Homo sapiens: one gene and its partners. The protein of the gene in region 5 interacts with the protein of the main gene of each other region in a pairwise test. Each region holds a gene or a part of one and is shown on either strand. Other genes may lie near its edges.

Region 1 (3,500 bases), on a different chromosome or scaffold from region 5:
AGATGTCCAAAGTACCCAATAAATATTAATTTCTAAATGTGTTAGTCTTCAGACATACTGTATTCATTAAACGTTACTAGTTTCCTAGTAAGTCCAAAAAGAAAATATTACTGGGTTCATGTCTTCACAGCCAAAGTGAAGTTTGGGCAATGAAAAAAATCTACAAGTGACACAGTATTGTAATTTAAGGAGAGGCCAAACTCCTTGTCACAAGGATACACTTTTCTTCGCTAGCAATTGGTCAGAATACTTTCTAACTCCACAGAATGCCTACACTAACGTGGTATTTCATCATGTCCCTTCATAAAGGCTTCAAAGATTAAAAATACTTAAAAAAAAAGAGAATACATTATAGCATTAGTGAGGAGATGCAGAAACACGTGTATGTATATATACTATATAGATGGAAGCATAAATCTGCATGGCTTTTCTGAATGATGGCTAAGTGATATGTCATAAAAATTTTAGAAATACAAACTCACTGAAATACACTTCTAGAAGGTTATCCTAGTATCATGTCAATTATATAAAGATGTATAAGAATGTGATGTGCAGTGTTGTATATGTGCAATGTTTTTTCAAAACACTGGGAAAAAATCAAATTAATAGATCACTGGTTATATAATGTATTGCACTCCATGGAACACTGAACGGCCATTAAAAGTGATTCTATCCAAGGGGCAGAAAAGTATGTATCGTTTCCTAACTTTTTTGATTAAAAAAAGGGGAGGGGAGAGACAGATAGGATAAGGGTATATATTTGTATTTGTATTTATTCAAGACAGTCTGAAAGGAGCCACACACATACACAAAAGAGTTGGGGCGAGGGGAAGTTTAGTGTTAGGGTGGATAGAAACAGGGGTGGAGAGACTTCGCTGTGCATCTTCTTAAATTGTTTTAATTTTTGAGCCATGTGAATTCATACAAAAATAAATGATGCTATAGGTCTATAAATATAGACAGAAAACACGTTCCCACTGTACTCTATGTTGTTAAATTAAAAAAGAAGGTAATAAATGAATATATAAAGATGGATTCATGTAAGAAACATTTTGTATTCTAGCACACATGAACAGGTATATGTGGACAAGAGAGACCTGGAAAGGCCTACTTCAAAATGTTCACAATTAACACAGGGATATTTTCTTTTTTATATTATGTTCTAATTTTTTTCCACTTAATATGTGTTACTTTCAAAATTAGAAATATAAATATTTTGTAAAAAATAATTTTTTTGAGTTCCCACTATTTGCTAGTTCACCAAAGACATTTACATACATTTCTATAGTGACAGCTAAGTCTCTAAATCTACTGTATGTGGTTCATCTTAATATCCAAGCATCCTGGGAGCGGGGAGAGATAGCATTAGGAGATATACCTAATGCTAAATGACGAGTTCATGGGTGCAGCACACCAACATGGCACATGTATACATACGTAACAAACCTGCACGTTGTGCACATGTACCCTAAAACTTAAAGTATATAAAAAAAAAATAATCCAAGCATCCAAGTGGGCAAAAATCATTAGCCCCTTACATACATTAAGTATCCTTACTGGGGAAATAAATTACATTACGTTTACAACAAACAACAGAGAATACATTAGAACAAAAGAAACAGGCCCTTTTTCTTTTCCCAAAGTTAGTAATAAATAAAAATAATCACAACAATAATAGCTACTAATTACCCAGTGTTTACTATGTGATATGTATATAAGCTTCCTGGGGGTAGGTGTTATCATTTCTATTTCAGACATACTAAACTGCAGCTCAGAGAGGCAAATTCACTTTTTTTTTTTTTTGAGACGGAGTCTCACTCTGTCGCCCAGGCTGGAGTGCAGCGGCATGATCTTGGCTCACTGCAAGCTCTGCCTCCTGGGTTCACCCATTCTCCTGCCTCAGCCTCCCGAGTAGCTGGGACTACAGGCGCCCGCCACCGCGACTGGCTAATTTTTTGTATTTTTTAGTAGAGACGGGGTTTCACCGTGTTAGCCAGGATGGTCTCGATCTCCTGACCTTGGGATCCACCCGCCTTGGCCTCCCAAAGTGCTCGGATTATAGGCGTCAGCCACCGCGCCCGGCCGGCAAATTCACTTTTCTAAGAGCATGTATGTCTCATGGAGCAGAGATGGATTTTGTTATTGATTGACTGATTGACTGATTGATTGAGATAGAGTCTCGCTCTGTCATCCAAGCTAGAGCACAGTGACGTGATCTCGGCTCACTGCAACCTCTGCCTCCTGGGTTCAAGCGATTCTCCCGAGTAGCTGGGACTACAGGTGCTCGCCACCACACCCAGCTAATTTTTGTATTTTTAGTAAAGATGAGGTTTCACCATGTTAGCCAGGCTAGTCTCGAACTCCTGACCTCAGATGATCCACCTGCCTCGGCCTCCCAAAGTGCTGGGATTACAGGTGTGAGCCATTGTGCTCGGCCAGAGATGGATTTTAAACACCTATCTGGTAACTTACAATGTTAACTTGCCTGGTAGGTTACCTTAGTAACTCGGTAACTGCTTACTTGGTAATTATTTCAAGTTCTGTTTGCTTTGTTACTTATACATGGTTTAGAGTCCCTTTTAGAAATTTAAACTAAAAAACTATAAATGTTTACTATTTATTTGTGCCTAGATTTGTTAAAAAGAAACTTGACAACTCTAATATGCATAATATATTTACTCTATTGACAAGGATTTTTAAAAAAGAAAAAAAAACTGGCTGCAATAGACCTTTCATTCATATAAAAAATGTTTTGCCCAGTTATATAACTAATACATATTCATTGTGGGAAATGCAGAAAATACTAAAGAAATAGAAAGAAAAATTCATAAATTCTACATTAAATAAAAACTAGTGTTCTGGTCTTTTTTTCTGTGTGATAATATTATACTATCTTTTCATGTATTATTCAAATACAAGTGTTAACCAGTGTTGTTAATGAAGTCTTGAGAAATGCCATTTTAAGAACTACACAGCATTACACCATGCAGATGCACTTAACCAATTCCCTGTTCCTGGACATTTAAGCTATTCCAATTTCTTTACTATTGTGAAAAATGCTGTACTATCTTTATGCATCATGATTTTTCTAAACTCTAGAAAATTCTTTAGGATGGATAGCTTTAATAATTTAACTTGAAAAAGTAAATGTTTGTGTGTGTCTAAATATAAATAGTGGCAATATTGTTCCCAAACTGACTGCATCAATTTATATTACTATGAACTGTATACAAAGTATCAGTTTTATTTTTCCCCCAATAGCATTTCTCTCTTCCTAACTGAAGAGCTATAAAATGAATTCTTGTTTCAATTTTCATTTCTTTGTTTAAAAGAAATAAAACCTTTTTATTGATCATTTTCATTACTTACAGCCTGTTCCACTAATTTTCCTGAGGCTAATTCCTCTTGGAGTTTCTGGGCTTTCAATGTTCGTTTTGCCTTTAAAAAAAAAAAAAAGAAAGAAAGAAAGAAAAAGTAAACATTTAAATTTTACTTACAAC
Region 2 (3,500 bases), on a different chromosome or scaffold from region 5:
ACTCGTGACCTCAAGTGATCCGCCTGCCTTGGCCTCCCAAAGTGCTGGATTACAGGAATGAGCCACAGCACCCGGCCAGAAGCCACCTTTTCTAACAGCTGTATTTCATTTGTATTCCACTTTAAGGCTACAGCTTTTTAACCTGTTTCTTATTGATGGATATATAGGCTAATTCCAATTTTGTGATATTGGAAACAATGCTGTGGCTGGGCGTGGTGGCTCATGCCCGTAATCCCAGCACTTTGGGAGGCCAAGGTGGGCAGATTGCTTGATGCCAGGAGTTTGAGACCAGCCTGACCAACATGGCGAAACTCTGTCTTTACTAAAAATACAAAAGTTAGCCGGGTGTGGTGGTGCATGCCTGTAGTCCCAGCTACTTGGGATGTTGAGGCATGAGAATCGTTTGAACCCAGGAGGTGGAAGTTGCAGTGAGCCAAGGTTGTGCCACCACACTCCTGCCTGGGTGACAGAGTAAGACTCTGTCTCAAAGAAAAAAAGTAAGGGAAGAGGAGGGAGGGAATTCTGGGCAGAGGAAGTGGCATCAGGAGTAAAGGTTGGGATGGCTTTGTCCTGTGTGAGGAATTGAGGGAGGGTAGGCTGTGGGCCAGGCTCCCTCTCATCCCTGCGCAGGCAGGGAGGGTGGGCATCCCTGTTGTGCACACAGGGCACTGAGGCCTGGAGAAGGGAAGCAGGCTTTGCTGGACATAGGCCTGTGAGAAGTAGACCTGGAGCTCAAACCTGGCCTATTTAGAGCCAGGATGCCATCCTGCCACTGCCGAGGGAGGCAAGTGACATGTGTCGAAGCAGACGCAGGGGCAGAGGAGACTGGAGACACAAAGACAGTGGAGGGGAATGGGGAAATGACACGTGTTCAAGATCTGTGTGAGAAGCCTTCCGTTTCAGGCTGAGGAGCTCAGTGATCATAGGGAGGCCCTGAAAGTTGGAAATCTGGGCTCAGACCTCATCTGCCACCTGATGTCTCTTCTGTGATATTCAATTTTTTTTTCCAGAATCGTTGCAGTGTGCCAGTAGATCAGGCCTCTGAGTCACTGCTGAAAAGCAAAGCCTGCTTTGGAGCTGAAAACCTCATGAGGGTTCTGGGGAACTATTGCCGCCTTGGTGAAGTGCGCACCCACATTCGTGTGGGTGTTGTGGGTAAGACCTGCTGTGTGGTCATGGGGCTCAGGCTTCTTTCTTGAGCGGACACTTCGCTGGGGGAAAGGATCCTGGGAGCTTCATTGTCTTTTGCGGGGAGAGAGGAGTGGTTCAGGAGAAGGGTTTCGTGATTTGTAACTTGGATGGGTGGGCATCACTGCGTATTGAGTATTAGATTCATGGAGCAAATACAGGGTGCCAGGCTTGGACTTGGTACCATCTCATCCTATCAGAGCTATGGGAGGATGGGGTGACCGTCTACCTTTTACGGATGAGAATTCTGAGTGAGGCTCAGAGAAGGGCAAAGGGACTTTTGGAGCCCAGCCCTGTGCAAGACAAGGCAGAGCTGAGGATCAAAACCTGGGCCTTTCTGGAGCACAAGTTTCTGAGGGAGGGATGATGGGAATGGAGTAGGGAAATTGAGAGAGGCAGAGATAGATCACCAGAGAAAGAATGTGAAGCCACGTGAGAAAGACATTGGAGAGAGAGCTAGACACTGAGAAGGTATAGGTATGCATACCAGGATAGATACAGAAGAAGACACAGAGAACGCACTGGGAAGCCAGATGGCAGGATTGGTGGGGAATGGAAAGAGGAGACAGATTTACATGATGGAGGCATGTAAAGAGGGAGATACAATCAGAAACACCAAAAGGGACATAGAAACAGACATGCATACAGAGATCTGCCGAGGGAGACATAGGAAGGGTAGAGATAACCCATGTATGTAGAGAGGCAGACATGTTTTCTCAAAGAATGAGAGAGAAAAACATACTACAGGGATAGAGACAGATTCAGAGAGAGACATACATGGAAGCAGACTGGACAAGGCTGTAGATACAGAGGAACACATACACATAGCTCTTAAGTACACATACAGATCCACAAACACATACACAGACCCACGCTACAGACCCAGAGATCCAGAGGAGGCACATCTAGCGAGACAGAACCACAGTCAAAATGCATGTAGACCAAGCCCTTCCCACACACACCCACCCCAACGCTGCTCCCCCAACGCGCATAGAACCACAAGGAGGGCTGGATGTAGCAGCTCATTCATGCCTGTAGCCCCAGCACTTTGGGAGGCTGAGGCGCACAGATCACTTGAGGTCAGGAGTTTGAGACCAGCATGGCCAACATGGCGAAACCCCATGTCTACTAAAAATACAAAAATTAGATGTGTGTGGTGGCGGGCATTTGTAATCCCAGGTACTCGGGAGGCCGAGGCAGGAGAATCGCTTAAATCTGGGAGGTGGAGGTTACAGTGAGTTGAGGTTACAGTGAGTTGAGATCGTGCCACTGTTGAGATCCAGCCTGGGCAACAGAGCGAGACTCCGTCTCAAAAAAAAGAAGACACGCATGTGCCCACATACACTTTGACCCTCGAACATAATCACATACCTAGAGTTACAGAGGGACACAAATACCAGACATGTCACTATGAGGCAGGTATGTGTACCTGTACAGAGAGAAATAGAGACATACAGAGAGGAGGTTAAGGAGGCGCAGACAGGGAGAGAGTAGAAGAGACACCGTGAGACACATACAGAGAGGCATCCATGAAGTGACCAGCCCACAGAGATGAGGAGCATGGACAGAGGCTGACAGGAGTTGGCATGGAGGGAATTACAAATAGAGGCAGGATTGGTGGGGTGGAGAGAATCAGAGAGAAAAGAACAATGGCCAGAATGAGAGACAGACAAATTGGCAGAGAAAGAGGTGCTTAGATACAGAGACACAGAGAGAAACAAAGATAAGATAGAGAAAGAGACTGAGTGGGAGAGATACAAGAAAAGGAAAAAGTGGTGATACTGAGAATGGGAATGACCGAGAGAGAGAGAGAGAGAGAGAGAGAGAGATGTGTAGAGACTTCCATGCATGGTGATAATTTAGAATGAGAATGACCTAGAGAGAGGGAGGGGGGAGAGAGGTGTGCAGAGGCTTCATGCACGAGAGGTATACTTAGACATATACCTTTTTTTTCTTTAGGCAATCAGCTTTCTCGGGTTGAAACAAGCATATGCTTGAGACAATAGTACACACATGTAAATTGAGCACATACAGAAAGAGAACGGTGAGAATGAGGCCCAGTGAGGGGAAACACAAAGACATCCACAGGCTGAGAATGGCTGACAGATGCACAAACAGCAAAATACACACCTCAGGTAGACAGCTGCACAGAGAGACTGGCATCTGGAGATGACCTCCATCCCCATCCATGGAATGATACACCCAGACAGGTTGTTCTCTGTTTCTTAGACATTTCTCGATGTCCACCTTCTGTTGGATTGTGCCACTGAGGCCTTGCATTGAGGACCTCTGCCTGGCTGATTGTGAGTGGG
Region 3 (3,500 bases), on a different chromosome or scaffold from region 5:
TGTCGCGACTCACAACTGAATCACAGAGTAGGGAGGTGTCTTAGCGATGACTCAGTTCTCCCCTGCATTGATGCATATTAATGTTATTCCTCACTACCCACAGCCCATCTCATCTGGAGGTTTTATTCTTCTTGATTGTCTCAGTGTCAAGGAGTTCACTGCCTCATGAGGCAGCTCAGGAACTGGGCTATAAATAATGACTCATTGTTGTAACATTGATTTCTCTCCTCACTCCTGGAATCTCAGAAGAGTAAAGGGAGAAATAGGGCCAGTGTTGTACAATTGATTCCCTCTTTCTTTGTAAAGGCTGCCAGGTGACTTGCTAGGAAAGAGAAACGGGAGGAAGGGGCTAGCATTTAGAGTGAATGTTTGCAACGGGAGAGGCACTTTGTTAGGTGCCTTATATTTGCTGCTGTTTATTTTGGTCTTCACAAAGTTCTTGTACTCATGAGTAAACTAAGTCTCAGGGAGATCAAAAGCCTTATCCAGAATCACCCAATAAGGAAGGTGGATTTAGAATTTGGGATTTTATCATCTTAGTTCAGTTCATTTTACCATTTCTGGGGAACTTGCTATGTGCCAGGCACTGTGTTAAATACTTCCCACACATATTTTTGATAATACTTGAATCAATCTGGCATTAATATACCTATTTGACAGGTGAAGAAATGGAGGCTTACAAAGTCAAGTGACTTTCCCAGGGTGAAAAAACTAGTACATGGTATGACCAGGATTCAAATCTAGTTGTGATTGAACCCAAATCCTGTGTCTTTTCATAGCCCCCTGCAGCCCCAGGATTTAGCTTCCAAATACTAAGTATGACAGCACATTGGGCATCAGCCACACACCTGGCTCTGGCCTAAGCTCTGGGATACAAGGCGATGGATGAGGTATACCATGCCCCCTAGTAATGAGCTAAGTGTTAGTTGCTATGTTGCAGAGCAGGGTCACATTAACTAATATTTTAAGCAGTAACGATACAGTGCTTTGGGCGTTGACATAAGGAAGAGATGGACTGGGAGTTGTTTTTTGTTTTTAAGAGGGAAGAATTGAAAAAAGTTAGTGGATAGTAGACTTTCAAAAATGTTTGTCCATTAGAATGGAGTTGTATGTATCCAGAGGGTAATATTCCCATAGGCATAAAATGTTAAGAAGACTGACTCATACCTGGAATTTGGAAAGGTAGCCTTCCCAGATATTTTGGGAACTTCTTTGTTGAGAGAGAGAGAGAGAGATGCCCAATATGACAGCACATTGGGCATCAGGCATATGGCTGATCCTGGGGCCGCAGGGGACCATGAAAAGACACAGGATTTGGGTTCAATCATGAGAGAAAGGGAATCCTTTCCCTAGCTTCTTACACAGAGAATCTGTAGGACCTGCTGGAATCACTAGTTGGTTTTGTTTCCCAAGAGGAAGGTTTTCTAAGGCACACCCCTACATTTTTTTTTTTTTAAATCAGCATTCACTGTAAGAAAAAAAATCGACATAATATTCTCATAATGATTTCTCCTAATAAAGATGGATATTGTTACAGTTACACTACAGTAATCTTATGACTCTCTGTATACACTGAATGCCATTCATTCATTCATTCATTCCTAAGAAGTTACTGAATGTATAGCACAGAGCTTGGTGAGGCACTCTGGGGACATGCAAAGAGTCATGGGGCTTCTTCTGCGGAGATGCTCACAGTATGCAATGGAGCATAATGTATACACCAAGTAGAAATTGAGATAGGATGTGGTAAATGTCTTGAAAGTGGTGTAAGGAGAGTGCTGTGGGAATTCCGAGGCGAAAAGATTACCTCTGACTGTGGATTTAAGAGCTTCATGGTTGGCCCGGCATGGTGGCTCATGCCTGTAATCCCAACACTTTGGGAGGCCGAGGCAGGTGGATCACCTGAGGTCAGGAGTCCAAGACCAGCCTGGCCAACATGGTAAAACCCCATCTCTACTAAAAATACAAAAAATTAGCCGGGCGTGGTGGCATGTGCCTGTAATCCCAGCTACTGAGGAGGCTGAGGCAGGCGAGTCATTTGAATCTGGGAGGTGGAGATTGCAGTGAGTCGAGATCTCACCATTGCACTCCAGCCTGGGCAACAAAAGTGAAACTCCATCTCAAAAATGAAATAAAATAAAATAAAAATAAAAATAAAATAAAATAAATAAAATAAATAAAAGCTTCATGGAAGAGATGGTCTCTGAACTGGACCCTAGGGACAACTAGGATTTGGAAGCCCTGAGCTAGGTGGGAAGGCACACCACACATATATAGCAAAGTACGGAAGTCTCATTGGGCTTGGGGTTTGATGATGGGTTTAGACGCAGCTCTGACACTGACTTGGCTGGGTGCTCTTGGACAAGCCACTTAGCCTCCTCAAGCTGCCTCATTAGTGTAATTGGGGTAATACCTCCTTCATAGGGTGTTACGAGGATTAAAGGATATAACATGTTGAGCATGGAGCATGGTGCCTGGCACATAGTAAGTACGAAATGAGCATTAGTTAGAGCTGATTCTGAATCTACCATTTCCTTTTGATGTGCTTATCTTTCAAAAGTGGTGGTTTCCTTGCTTGTGGCCCCTGTCCACTTTGGTCACTGTTGGCTGGGGCCCGTGGAGCTGTCCAGAGGGGACCGGGGCCAGTAGAGTAGAGGACAGTATTTGTAGAGCAGGCATTTCTTCTGAGGTTCCTTGGGATCCCCTGAGCTATGAAAGCTGGAAGCAGTTGAAAGTTTTCAGGGAGAGGGATGCTGGAGTCTCAGAACTTTAGAGGTGCTGCAGGAGTCAGTTCTGGCAGTGAGAGAACACTTGGGCGGGTTTCACACACACACAGCACTTGAGCCAGTCTTGGGCAGAAGGGGCCTCACTTCCAAGCACAAGGAGTGTTAACGAAAAAATTATTAACATGGTAAGGAAGACTTTATTCAGGGCCATTGCAGTAGGCATCCCAATAGTGGGGAGAGATGGGGCTCAATTCCAAGTACAAGAAGAACAAGTGGGCACTTAGCCAAGGAGCAGGTGGGAGGGGGTCAGAGGATAGAAAATTACTAAGAGGAGACGTCAAGGTTAGGGGGATTCTTGCTGAAGTCAGGCCAAGGAGCAGGTGGGAGGGGGTCAGAGGATGGAAAATTACTAAGAGGAGACGTCAAGGTTAGGGGGATTCTTGCTGAAGTCAGGCCAAGGACTTAGACTATCAGAGGTGGTGGGTGAGGAATTTGATCAGATATTGAAGGTGGGGGATTCTCACTAAACTGACTTAGCAGGATTCTTGCTAAAGCTGAATTCTGCCAGGATGGAAACGGAAGCCCAGGGAGAGGCCGGGTAGAGAAGAGGATTCAGAGGAGCCTGACTAAAGTTTGGTCAGGGAGAGAGTCTGTCAGGGGGATCAAATGAGGAAAGACAAACTGGTCTAGAGAAAGTGGCTACTGACCACCATCACCCCTTATAGAACGTCTGTCTGTCCCCATCAGCATGAGTTCTTTTGCTACATAGAGTGT
Region 4 (3,455 bases), on a different chromosome or scaffold from region 5:
GGGTAGAGAAAATAAGGGGAGGTTTGTAGAAAAACATAACTACACAAATTTTATATACAGGTTTGACAGTGAAGGGGAGGACAGAGAAACCTGGAGGGAAAGAGAGGGTGGAAAGAATGTGTTTTTCAAGACACGAGACTTGAACAAGTTTAATTGCTGTTGGAAAGGAATAGGCAGAGAGAGAGAAAGAGAAGGAGAGGGAGAGAGATTAAACATCCAAGATAAGAAAGTGGGAAAAATGAATAATTGATAGGTCAGGGTCACCAAGAAGGCGGGAGGTGATGGGAGTCTTGGCCCAGGGACCGGTCACTTTCACCTAGAGAGAATGGTGAAGCTGCAGGTAAGTTTCGCGGTAGCAGTGAGAGTGTTGCTAACTGGTGACAGCATCTGCTTCCTTGATAATCTGGATGGTGAGACCACCTGATGAGAGAGAGTGGGGGCGATGGTGCTGCTGAAGATTTCAGGACAGTTTTGAAGGTTTGAACAGCTGCTGGGTGAATGGAGAGAGGTGACTAAGGAAGCAGGCAGACTGGCGGGTAGCCTGGGAGAGGCCGGAAACCACGCCATCATGGGGCACCCATTTCACAGACCGATGTGTTTCTGTGGCATCCTGAACACATGTTCAGAAAATGTGGGCAGGTAGATGGATGAAAGGTGGGGAGATTTTGTGGGAGTCTGTGACAGAATGGGAATAGTGAGGGGAGTTGGAGGTATTGGTGAAGAAATGGTTGAAGTGATAGTCTTTGGACTCAAATTGACTCTGAAAGGCAGTGTGGATGGGAGGGGCTGACAGGGAGAAGCTGGGGATTGGGAGTGTTGATGTTGAAGAGCAGATGTGATGGGGAATTGAGTGCCGGAGCCCATGGCCTCAGAATGCCTGGCTTAAATAGAATCTTTCAAAGATGGGACATTTGCAGGTGGAGAAGGCCCAGTGGAGGGGCTGTGGGACTGGGTGACAGAGGGGAGTGGAGGGGTGAGCTGGGCTGGCCCAGGAGGGCGCTTCCTGGCTGCCCTGAGATGTCTCGGCACTGGTTGGGGCTTCAGGACCAATTTCATTATGATCTGACATTGATTTAGATGGCAAGGGGCGATTACTCAGGCTTCTCTCTGTGTTCACAGTTGCTAGAGAATGAAATACAAGCCCCAGAGTCAAAGTTATTGATTTCTTTCTCCAGATTGGATAATCTAATATCAACCCTGAACCATTTCTCAGTATGGAAATATCCATGCCAGTTTCCATTTCTAGAAGAAAAAGATGTCATTGGGTCAATTAAAAAGGTACATTATGATACAAGGGTACAGTGTCAAATGATTCTCCAAGAGGCAATGATGGCAGTTGGCCCTTTGAAGGACTAAGGGAGTTTGTTCTCCAGGGGAAGGGAAACCCCAGCTGACATTTCGGAGATAGTATTTTTTCCTCCTGATTTTGAAAGGATAAGCAAATAGTCTTCATTGGAAAGTGAGAATTTGGGGGTGATTTGAGGTTGGGATAGGGAGAAGGCTTTACTTTTTATTTTATACATTTGTACAATGAAATTATTTTTATGGTGATAAATTACTACTTTTATAGTAAGACTTTTTTAAAAAAACAAACAGATGAAAAGGAAAGAAAGGAAAGGAAGGGCAGGAGGAAGGAAGGAGAGAAGGAAGAAAGGAGGGGAGGGAGGGCGGAGCTGTGGAATTAGAGCAAAGGGAAATGTAGAGAGAGATAGCAAAATGAAATTAGGCAAAGAATTTTTCAGAAATATGGAGGAGGAGGTCGGGTGTATGTGATAAGAAACAGACTCACAACGACCGCAAGTTAACTGACTACTCGAAGCCTAGCTTTTCTGGGTCCATGGCAGTAGTTCCGAAACTTCGCTGCACATTAGAATTACTGGGGGAGATTTATCAGCTCTGACAGCCAGGTGTACTCTGACCTGATGAAATCAGGAGGTCATGGGCTGGGAGCAGGCATCATTGTTTTTTAATGATCCCAGGATGTTCCCTTGTGCAGCAAAGTTTGGGAACAGAAATTTCTCCTATGGGTTTGCATAAGGACAGGTCCTTCGGTGCAGTGGGCATCCCTTCAACAGTGTCGCCCCTAGAGAGAGTATCTGATGCTGGTGGAAGCTCTCTTCAACACACTCTGGGGCACTGCACTCAGCTGTGGTTCAGTGCAAGCACATCTGCGATAGGGGTTTCAGGTGTGTGTGGCTCTAATGAACTGGCTTGGCTCAGGGGTAGAATTTAGATATTCTAGAATAGTGGTTTTCAAGCTGGTTCTGTGAAGCCCTGGGGAACTAGAGAGGGGGTCCCGTAGGCAGAGGCTACCCTCTGTACGTCAACCAGGGCTGCGCTAATTAGATTGCTTCATATTTTGGGCTTCCAGGTAAGAAATTGTTTGGAAAAAAACTTCTTAAGATAGAGAGATGGCTCACTCCTGTCATCCAGCATTTTGGGAGGCCAAGGTGGATGGATCACCTTAGGTTGGGAGTTTGAGACCAGCCTGACCAATATGGAGAAACCTCATCTCTACTAAAAATACAAAATTAGCTGGGCGTGGTGGTGCATGCCTGTAACCCTAGCTACTAGGGAGGCTGAGGCAGGAGAATCACTTGAACCTGGCAGGTGGAGGTTGCAGTGAGCTGAGATTGCGCCATTGCACTCCAGATTGGGCAACAAGAGCAAAACTCCATCTCAAAAAAAAAAAAAAAAAAAAAGACAGGGAATCATTGATCTAGAATAGGGCTTGGTCAACTGTGGCCTGAGAACTAAAAATAGTTTTCTATTTTTATATGGTTGGAAAAAAATTCATGACACATAAAAAATATGAGATTCAAATTTCAGTGTTCATACATAGAGTTTTACTGAACACAGCCATTCATTTATATATTGTCTATGGCTGCTCTGCAGCAGAGTTGGATAGTTGGGATAAAGACCATATGGCCGGCAAACCCTCAGATATTTACTGTCTGGCTCCTTGCCGAAAATATTTGCCAACTTCTATTCTAAAAGAATCAGTGGAAGTCCTTGTTTTTTTGTGTGTTTGTTTTTGCAGCTTGGTAATATGCACCTCACCATTTCTATCAGAAAATTGAGATGTACTCTGCGTCATCTATACAAACAAATATGCTCTGTGTGAGTGTGTGTGTGTGTGTATGAGAGAGAGAATTTACTGATTTCTAGACCTGTTTTCTCACTGTCCTCATTTCTGCCTTCTTGCCTTGTAAGATAAATATGTATCATTATTTTTTCTCCCTTGAAATAGACCTTATTTTTTACAGCAGTGGTAGGTTCACAGCAGAATTAAGCAGAAAGAACAGAGAGTTCCCATATACAACCTTCCCCCCGAAAAGAGCCTCCTTTCCTGTCAACATCCTTTATCAGAGTGGTACATGTGTTACAACTGATCAACCTACAACGACACATCACCATCACCCAAAGCCCATAGGGTACATTAGGGTTCATTCTTG
Region 5 (2,763 bases):
ACCTGCAGCTGCAGCAGCTGTTGGGCCCGCTGTGCCCGCTGTGCCTGGGCCGCACAGTCCTCTCGCAGGGCCTCACGCTCTCGCTGCCAGTGCCGCTGCCGCTCCTCGTATGCCTGCAGGCGAGAAGAGAGACCTGGCTCCTGGGCAGTTTTCCCAACTCCCCACTCAGTGTCTGCTCTGGCAGCCCACTTCCGAGGGCTCAGGAAGGGTGGATTCCATTAAACAACAATAGTAATTGCAACAACAATACTAACTGCTTTTATGATGATCATAGAAACAAACACAAGAGCAAGCAGACCGGGCTCGGTGGCTCACGCGAGGTGGGTGGATCACTTAAGCTCCGGAGTTCGAGACCAGCCTAGGCAACACAGCAAAACCCTGCCTCTCCAAAGACCAAAAATTAGCTTGGTGTGGTGGCATGCGCCTGTAGTCTCAGCTACTTGGGAGGCTGGGGTGAGAGGACTGCTTGAGCCCAGGGGGTTGAGGCTACAGGGAGCTGAAATCACGCCACTGCTCTCTAGCCTGGGTGACAGAATGAGACCTTGTCTCAAAAAATAAAAAAAGCAAGCACTTGGCCGGGTGCAGTGGCTCACGCCTGTAATCCCAGCACTTTGGGAGGCCGAGGCAGGTGAATCACTTGAGGCCAGGGGTTCGCGACCAGCTTGGCCAACATGGTGGAAACCCTGTCTCTACTAAAAATAAAAAATAATAAAAAATTTTAAAAAAGGCAAGCATTTATATAGCACTTCCTAGGTACCAGGCATTAGTCTAATCACTTTACACCTTTTGCCTTATTTAATCCTCATAATAATCCTACGAAGCTAGAAATATCCCTATATAGATGAAGAAATAAAGGCTGAGTAAAGTTAAGCAACTTGCTCAAGCCCAAAAACTAGTATTTGGCAGTGGGAGGTTTGAATCCATGCACTCTGACTCCTTTCCACCCCACAAGTTTTGTTTTTTGTTTTGAGATAGAGTCTTGCTCTGTCGCCCAGGCTGGAGTGCAATGGTGGAATGTCAGTCCATTGTAACCTCCTCCTCCTGGGCTCCAGTGATCCGCCCACCTCAGCCTCCCAAGTAGCTGGGACTACAGGTACATGCCACCACACTTAGCTAATTTATTTTTAGTAGAAATGGGGTTTCCCCATGTTACCCAGGTTGGTCTCAAACTCCCGAGCTCAAGCAATCCGCCCACCTCGGCCTCCCAAAGTGCTGGGATTACAGATGTGAGCCACCACACCTGGCTACTCCACACATTAAACCAGACAACTGGTGGGGAGGGCAGGGGGGTCACAACTACAACTACCCAACCCCCGTTCCCTGCCAAAATGGAAATGCCGCTTGCATCCCAGGGCCTTGGGATGTCCTGCCATGCCCCTTCCCCATCATTGCCTCTGACCACACCTGGCACATGGTAGCCTCATTCTCGTCCAGACTGTCCCGCAGCTGCTGAAGCTCTGCCTCCCGGTCTCGGAGCTTTCCTTCCAGGACACAGTGCAGCAGGGCCTCATCCGAAGGAGGTGGAGGCGGGGGTGGTGGTGAGCGCTCCCCACAGGAGCTGCTGTCAGGGGAGGCCCGAGTACCACTGCCCAAAAGCCCCCCAGCCACACGGCCCCCTAGGGAGCCTGTGCTCTTGCTGGAGGAGGACCGGCCACTGTCTGAGTGGGAGGGCCCAGTAGGGACCCCTCGGGCTGGCCCAGGCAGTGCCCCTCGCCCAGAGCCATGGGAAGGCAGGTGCCCGCCTGGGGAGCTGGTGGTTGGCTCGGCACCTCCGGTGCTGTAGGTGGGCAGGCTGGACAGTGAGTTTCGGCCAGAGTCGGATAGCGTCCCTGATGGGCAGCCACTGGCCCAGCCACTAAATGCCAGGGGTTTGTCAGCAGCTGAAGAGGAGGAGGAAGAGGAGGAGGAGGAGGCAGGGCCCCCAAACAGCTGCGTCAGGCTGCCCTGGCTCCCAGACAGCCCGGTGGCCCGAGGACCCATGAAGCTAGGCAGGGACGGAGCCCCTCGAGGTTTGGGCAGCACTGGCTTGAAGGCTGTTGGGCGGATCAGGATCTTCTCCATGTTCTGAAATGAGGTGCCATGTGACACTGGAGATGAGCTGCCCAATCTTGCAGAGCCCTTATGACACTCCCTGCCCTCCCGTCTTGGGTCCCCAGTGCCCATATATTCATAACAATTGCGGCCACTGGTGGAGGTGGCCACCAGTGTCAGCTTTGTGTCAAGCAATTTGAAAAGTTTATCTCCATTATCTAAATATGATCACTATCCCCATATTACAGATGAGGAAATGGAGGCTCAGCAAGGTTAAAGGCCTTGCCCAAAGTCAAACGTATAACTGGTGCAGAATAACCAGAACGTAAGCAACTAGCACTTACTGCGTACATGCTACGTGCTAGGCACTATGCTATACATTATTTGACCTTCATGTCAGTTCTAGAAACTGAGGCTCAGGTTAAGTGACTTCCCTGAGGTCACACATCCAGAATGAGAGAGAGCTGGGATTAGGACCCAGGTCTGGTGAATCTGGAGCCCACACTCTTTCCTCTATATAAGCTTCTAAATTCCAGTTTCCCAAGCGAGGACTCCCGTTCTACCCAGGCCCACAAGGAAGAGCCGGTCCTCACCTTCTCCAGCTTTCCAGAGACAGGGATGAGCTTTGGTGGTGGGCCGCGGAGGTGGGCATTGTGTGCCCGCTGCTCTCGGGCATCCTCAACATCACTGCTTGGGCTGGGGGGTGACTCTGTCCGGAAGTCCTCATTGATG
Region 6 (3,500 bases), on a different chromosome or scaffold from region 5:
TGTACACCACCTGTGAGTCACGTAGCGGTCATCTCAGTTACCAGATCGAAGAATCATAGTATGTACAGGGTTCAGAACTAGCCATGATTCAGGCATCCACCTGGGGTCTTAGAACATTTCTTTAAGTTAATTGTGGCTTTTGTTTGTTTGTTTTGTTTTTTGAGATGGAGTCTTGCTCTGTCGCCCAGGCTGGAGTGCAATGGTGCAATCTCAGCTCACTGCAAGCTCCACCTCCCGGGTTTATGCCGTTCTCCTGCCTCAGCCTCCCAAGTAGCTGGGACTACAGGTGCCTGCCACCATGCCTGGCTAATTTTTTTATATCTTTAGTAGAGACGGGGTTTCACCGTGTTAGCCAGGATAATCTCAATATCCTGACCTCGTGATCTGCCTGCCTCGGCCTCCCAAAGTGCTGGGATTAAAGGCATGAGCCACCGTGCCCGGCCAAGTTAATTGTTTAGATATACGCTCTTTTTTCAGAAATTTCCTACTTTCATTCCCTGATTCTCTCTATTCACTATCAGTTTTAATTTTCATAGCATCAATTTGTAATAAACGATCGAAAAGTTTTACCCCATGTCCTTGTCTTGGCCAATTTTTCCCCCTTTGGATCATTTACATCAAAACCAAATTTTTGATATAGCCCAAATCCCCAAATGTCTTTCTGCTTTTTCTTGCCATGTTTAATTTGAAACAAATAGAAATAAGCCATATTGTTTTGAACTCTTTGCATTTCTTTCTCCAAATCCTTTCATTTGTTCTTGTTGTGGTTCACTCTGTTTGTTGCCAAGGCTGGAGTGCAGTGGTGTGATCTGAGCTCCTTACAACCTCTGCCTCCTGGATTCAAGAGATTCTCCAGCCTGAGCCCCGTGAGTAGCTGGGATTGCAGGTGCTCACCACCACACCCAGCTAGCTTTTGAATTTTTAGTAGAGGTGGGGTTTTGCCATGTTGGCCAGGCTGGTCTCAAACTCCTGACCTCAAGTGATCCACCTGCCTTAGCCTCCCAAAGTGCTGGGATTACAGGCATGAGCCACTGTGCCTAGCTTGAGTCCTTTTATTTGTTTGTCTGTTTTATTTCAGGATGGGAAATGCGACTTGAAACCCAGTGGTCTATACTTCAGCAGGACTTTTTGAGGGGTCAGACATCCATTGGGATACAATTGGTAAGATTTGCATAGGATATTTTTTATTTTCCACCCTCAGAGAAAATCAGGAATTCTGTTATGGGAAGTCAGCAAAAATAAGAGATATTTGAGAGAAGTTGCATACACATGAGAGGGAGCAAAGAATTTAGGGATGCTCCAATTGTGAAACTTGTTTCTTTGGAGCTTTCACACATTCCCACAAGTGTAACTAGACGTTGAGTTTTGTTTTGGTGTTTTTTTGAAACGAGATACTGCTCTGTCACCCAGGCTGGAGTGCAGTGGTGCAATCATGGCTCAGTATAGTCTTGACCTCCTGGGCTCAGGCGATCCTCCCACCTCAGCCTCCCTTGGTAGCTGGGACTACAGGCATGCACCACCACACCCAGCTAATTCTTCAAAATTTTGTGGAGACAGGGTCTTACTGTGTTTCCCAGGCTAGTCTCAAACTCCTGTGCTCAAGTGATCCTCTGCCTCAGTTTACAAAAGTGCTGGGAGTACAGGCATGAGCCACCACATCTGGCTTAGACTATGAATTTTTTTTTTTTGGTCGAGACAAGGTCTTGCTGTGTCACCCAGGCTGGATTGCAGTGGCACAAACATGGCTCACTGAAGCCTTGACCCCTTGGCTCAAGTGATCCTCCCACCTCAGCCTCCTATGTGGTTGGGACTACAGGAACACACCACCATGCCCAGCTAATTTTTTGATATTTTTTATAGAGATGGAGTTTTGCCATGTTGCCCAGGCTGGTCTCTAATTCCTGGGTTCAAATGATCCACCCACCTTTGCCTCCCAAAATGCTGGGATTACAAATGTGAGCTACTGCACCCATCTAGACATTGAATTCTACAGAAATCTGTTATTATTATTATTATTATTATTTTGAGACGGAGTCTCGCTTTGTTGCCCAGGCTAGAGTGCAGTGGTGTGATCTTGGGTCACTGCAACCTCCGCCTCCCAGGTTCAAGCGATTCTTGTGTCTCAGCCTCCCAAGTAGCTGGGATTACAGGCATGTGCCACCAAGCCCAGCTAATTTTTGTATTTTTAGTAGAGACAGGGTTTCACCATGTTGGCCATGCTGGTCTTGAACTCCTGACCTCAGGTGATCTGCCCCCCATCGGACTCCCAAAGTGCTGGGATTACAGGCATGAGACACCATGCCTAGCCAAGATTAAAGTAGATGGCACAACATTCTAGAATAAGAGTTAAGTCATACCACTTAAAATAAATCTACAGGGAAGGACCTGAATGCATGTAATAAAAATGGCATCAATTATAATCACCATTATAATGTTTCTAGCTTCAGATGGGTATGTTCTGTTAATATGTTTGAGAAAAATCCTTAAATCATCATCATCCCTTCAACAGGAAGGAAAACACAATGGAAGGGAACTCTGTGACTGTGAGCAATGTGGAGAAGTCTTCAGTGAACACTCATGCCTTAAGACGCACGTGAGAACTCAAAGTACAGGGAACACTCATGACTGTAATCAGTATGGAAAAGATTTCCTTACCCTGTGTGAGAAAACCTCTACTGGTGAGAAACTTTCTGAGTTTAATCAGAGTGAAAAAATCTTCAGCCTGACACCAAATATTGTATACCAGAGAACTAGCACACAAGAAAAGTCATTTGAATGTAGTCACTGTGGAAAATCCTTCATTAATGAGTCATACCTTCAGGCACATATGAGAACTCACAATGGAGAAAAACTCTACGAATGGAGGAATTATGGGCCAGGTTTTATTGACTCTACAAGCCTTTCTGTGCTTATAGAAACCCTCAATGCAAAAAAGCCCTACAAATGTAAGGAATGTGGAAAAGGCTATAGATACCCAGCCTACCTCAGTATTCACATGCGAACCCACACTGGGGAGAAACCATATGAATGTAAGGAATGTGGGAAAGCCTTCAATTATTCCAACTCATTTCAGATACATGGAAGAACTCACACTGGAGAGAAACCCTATGTATGTAAGGAATGTGGGAAAGCCTTCACTCAGTACTCGGGCCTTAGTATGCATGTACGATCTCACAGTGGAGACAAGCCCTATGAATGTAAGGAATGTGGGAAATCCTTCCTTACATCCTCACGCCTTATTCAACATATAAGAACTCACACTGGAGAGAAGCCTTTTGTATGTGTTGAATGTGGGAAAGCCTTTGCAGTTTCCTCAAATCTTAGTGGACATTTGAGAACTCACACTGAAGAGAAGGCCTGTGAGTGTAAGATATGTGGGAAAGTATTTGGGTATCCCTCATGTCTTAATAATCACATGCGAACGCACAGTGCCCAGAAACCATACACCTGTAAGGAATGTGGGAAGGCTTTTAACTATTCCACCCACCTTAAAATTCACA
Region 7 (2,966 bases), on a different chromosome or scaffold from region 5:
TGTCCCTGCCATGGTGCGGGTCATTTCAGCCGGTTCTCAACAAGACTCAGGGTCCGGCCAGCCTGTGACTGAATGTTACCTTGAATCCTCTCAGCACCCTTTATAATCAGGAGAGGAGATAACTGCCGTTAAGAACAGCCGTTTGGAAAGGGGGTGTTGGGCTGATGCTCCTGGTCAGCCCATTCTCTGTGGGCACGGCAGGATGCCCATTCTCTGAGGGCACAGCAGGACGAGTTGCGCTGGGGCTGCTGCCTTACACAACCCCCTGCTACAGGAGGTGGGCCTGGGGTGGCTCAGGACTGATCAGGCTCAGCCATCTTTGGTTTGCCAACATGGGGTTTTAGAACCCAGCAGGTGTTGGGCCTCTTGTGCTGGGTCAGCACCCCAGGCCCCGAGCAGAAGTCAGAGCTGGCCAGTGTGGGCCTGACATCCTGTCTGGCTGGGTGCTGTGTGTCCGTCTGGATCCTGGTCTGTGGCCTCCTGTGATCCAGCTCTTTGTGGTGGGGTCACCCTGTCTTTGTTGACTGGCTGGGTGCTGTGCGTCCGTCTGGATCCCAGTCTGTGGCCTCCCTGTGGTCCGGCTCTTTGTGGTGGGGTCACCCTGTCTTTGTCAGGCCTGGGCTATTGCTTTGCTTTCCTGGCACTGTGTCAGCTCAGCCCCCACAAAAGGGGCCTCTTGGCAAAGGGGTGTTTTCCTGTTCTGTCTTCAGAAGCCAGCAGTGTCTGAAACTTGCCTCTGTCTGGTGGGACCTCACCAACATCTTCCCATGTCCTGATCCTTCCCCGTTTTAACCAAGTCTCCTCAGGGTCTGGCTTCGGAGAACGGGGTTGGTGGGGTGGTTTATGCAGCTTCTTTACTCCGTGATGCAGCAGGGCTGGGGCTGCCCACGCTTGCCTCTGAGCAGCCAGTGCACATGCCTTTGAGGCTCCGTTCTTGGTAGAACTCTCCCGTTGTAGGCATCTGGCCTACTCAAGCAGGAGGAGTTTTTAGACGGACGTAGGGCAGCTCCCGGTATGGAAGGGGAAGTGGACCGACGGGGCAGTAATGGGCACCTCTGCAGGTCAAGGGCAAGGAGAGGGGCCGCCTCGCTTTGCACAGGGGCCTGACCTGGGCCCTGTCTCCTGCCTACTGTGTGCCTGTCAGTCCCAGGTGCTGGGGAGAGGGTGATAGATGAGGCCATGCTTACGGGTTAGTGGGAAGATGAGACACAATATTTACTGTCAGGTGGTGAAAAGCACATGCAGCAGGGATGGGCCAAAGGAGACTCAAACTCGGGCTGGGTGTCCTGGGCAGGATGGCACTCTATGGAGTCATTGCATCGTCTGCTGTGTGCTGGCCCCGTTTGGCCAGAGTGCACTCAAGTGTCTGCTTCTTTCTTTAAGGGAGCAAAGCTTGTATTGGCTTGCAATTCAGCAGCTGCCTACAGACCCTATAGAAGAACAGTTTCCTGTCCTAAATGTGACCCGGTATTATAATGCCAACGGGGATGTAGTGGAAGAGGAGGAGAACTCTTGCACCTACTATGAGTGCCACTACCCTCCCTGCACAGTGATTGAGAAGCAGGTGGGTGTGCTGCAGTGCGGTCGCGTCCCTGGCACCTCTACCCTGTAGCCCAGCCTTGGTTTGGGATCTTGCCCTCCACCGCGGGGTCCCATTCCCCAGAGACCGCTTAGCACCTCTTGGGCTTTTCCACCAGAGTGGTCTCCCTTTGCCCTTGTGCTGGCCTGACCAGGGCCCAGGCCCTCCAGCCTTGGTACGTGGTGTTTTGCTGGGTCCGTCAGATTGTCCGTAAGACGCAGCCTTTGCCCCACACTGCGTCCCAGGCATGATGGTGAAGCCACAGGTGTTCTGTATTTCAGCTCCGGGAGTTCAACATCTGTGGGCGCTGCCAGGTGGCCCGGTACTGCGGCTCCCAGTGCCAGCAGAAGGACTGGCCTGCCCACAAGAAGCACTGTCGGGAGAGGAAGCGTCCCTTCCAGCATGAGCTTGAGCCAGAGCGATGACGGGCAGGGGAGCCACACATACTCACAGCCCCCGGGCTCTACCCTGGGCACAGCAGAGACAGACTGGTGGTTGAACCTGGAGGTGCCAAAAAAGCCAGCTGCGGGCCCAGGACAGCTGCCGTGAGACTCCCGATGTCACAGGCAGTCTGTGTGGTTACAGCGCCCCTCAGTGTTCATCTCCAGCAGAGACAACGGAGGAGGCTCCCACCAGGACGGTTCTCATTATTTATATGTTAATATGTTTGTAAACTCATGTACAGTTTTTTTTGGGGGGGAGGCAATGGGAAGGGTAGAAATTACAAATAGAATCATTTGCTGTAATCCTTAAATGGCAAACGGTCAGGCCACGTGACTAAAAACTGTCCTGTTGTCGAAGCTTCTCCCCTGGGCCGCCGGGAGCCCCGTGGAGCGCGGCCTGCACGGGAGTTGTGTCCACAAAGGCAAAGTAAAGGGGTGGAATCATCTGGCCTCTCGGACATTCTCTGCTCCGCCTCCCTCTTGTGCTGCTTAGGGTGAGGTCATTTTGAGTGGAGCCGAGTCCTTGTGGGTGAGGCAGGAGGACCCTTGTTCCTGGTGGGCCCTTCTGAGGAGCGGGTGAGCTCAGACCTTCCTGAGTCCAGCAGGGAGTATGAGTGAGACTCTGTCCTTGTCTTGCGGCAGGAGTGGTGGGGTTGCTAAGTCAGCTGCCCGCTGTTTTATGGGGAGTAGGATGCTCTCGCCCCTGACATTGGTTAGTTCTTGCCTGATTTATGCATGAAGTGGCTGGGAGCTCAGCAGTGAGCTTCTGCCCAGAAGAATCCACAGGGCATGTTCAGCAGGCCTGCTGCAGATGGTGGAGGGGGCTGGCCAGCCAGGGTGAGGTGAGGGTCTCACTTCTCCGTCCGTCTGCAGGGCTGTGGTTTCCAGGATAGCCCTCCCTCTCCTTGGGGAGCCCCAGGTGTCTGGGGCTGGTCAGCATCTTG

The links.
Region 1: the proteins of LZTS2 (region 5) and SLU7 interact in binary tests that used the Homo sapiens proteins (3 or more experiments, as listed by UniProt).
Region 2: the proteins of LZTS2 (region 5) and GNL3L interact in binary tests that used the Homo sapiens proteins (3 or more experiments, as listed by UniProt).
Region 3: the proteins of LZTS2 (region 5) and GEM interact in binary tests that used the Homo sapiens proteins (3 or more experiments, as listed by UniProt).
Region 4: the proteins of LZTS2 (region 5) and FAM124B interact in binary tests that used the Homo sapiens proteins (3 or more experiments, as listed by UniProt).
Region 6: the proteins of LZTS2 (region 5) and ZNF426 interact in binary tests that used the Homo sapiens proteins (3 or more experiments, as listed by UniProt).
Region 7: the proteins of LZTS2 (region 5) and ZMYND19 interact in binary tests that used the Homo sapiens proteins (3 or more experiments, as listed by UniProt).

The regions. Positions count from the first base shown.
Region 1 is NC_000005.10:160,409,082-160,412,581, forward strand, and holds part of SLU7 (pre-mRNA-splicing factor SLU7), read right to left. Parts: intron 3,439-3,500; coding exon 3,370-3,438; intron 1-3,369. UniProt on the Homo sapiens protein: Required for pre-mRNA splicing as component of the spliceosome. Participates in the second catalytic step of pre-mRNA splicing, when the free hydroxyl group of exon I attacks the 3'-splice site to generate spliced mRNA and the excised lariat intron.
Region 2 is NC_000023.11:54,547,219-54,550,718, forward strand, and holds part of GNL3L (guanine nucleotide-binding protein-like 3-like protein), read left to right. Parts: intron 1-1,010; coding exon 1,011-1,155; intron 1,156-3,500.
Region 3 is NC_000008.11:94,255,820-94,259,319, reverse strand, and holds part of GEM (GTP-binding protein GEM), read left to right. Parts: intron 1-3,500. UniProt on the Homo sapiens protein: Could be a regulatory protein, possibly participating in receptor-mediated signal transduction at the plasma membrane. Has guanine nucleotide-binding activity but undetectable intrinsic GTPase activity.
Region 4 is NC_000002.12:224,381,653-224,385,107, reverse strand, and holds part of FAM124B (protein FAM124B), read left to right. Parts: intron 1-3,455.
Region 5 is NC_000010.11:101,002,808-101,005,570, reverse strand, and holds part of LZTS2 (leucine zipper putative tumor suppressor 2), read right to left. Parts: coding exon 2,625-2,763; intron 2,065-2,624; coding exon 1,405-2,064; coding exon of another isoform or gene 1,303-1,404; exon of another isoform or gene 1,095-1,302; intron 114-1,094; coding exon 1-113. UniProt on the Homo sapiens protein: Negative regulator of katanin-mediated microtubule severing and release from the centrosome. Required for central spindle formation and the completion of cytokinesis.
Region 6 is NC_000019.10:9,528,646-9,532,145, reverse strand, and holds part of ZNF426 (zinc finger protein 426), read left to right. Parts: intron 1-1,078; coding exon 1,079-1,161; intron 1,162-2,509; coding exon 2,510-3,500. UniProt on the Homo sapiens protein: May be involved in transcriptional regulation.
Region 7 is NC_000009.12:137,581,581-137,584,546, reverse strand, and holds the end of ZMYND19 (zinc finger MYND domain-containing protein 19), read left to right. Parts: intron 1-1,383; coding exon 1,384-1,564; intron 1,565-1,860; coding exon 1,861-2,004; 3' UTR 2,005-2,466; downstream 2,467-2,966. UniProt on the Homo sapiens protein: May be involved as a regulatory molecule in GPR24/MCH-R1 signaling.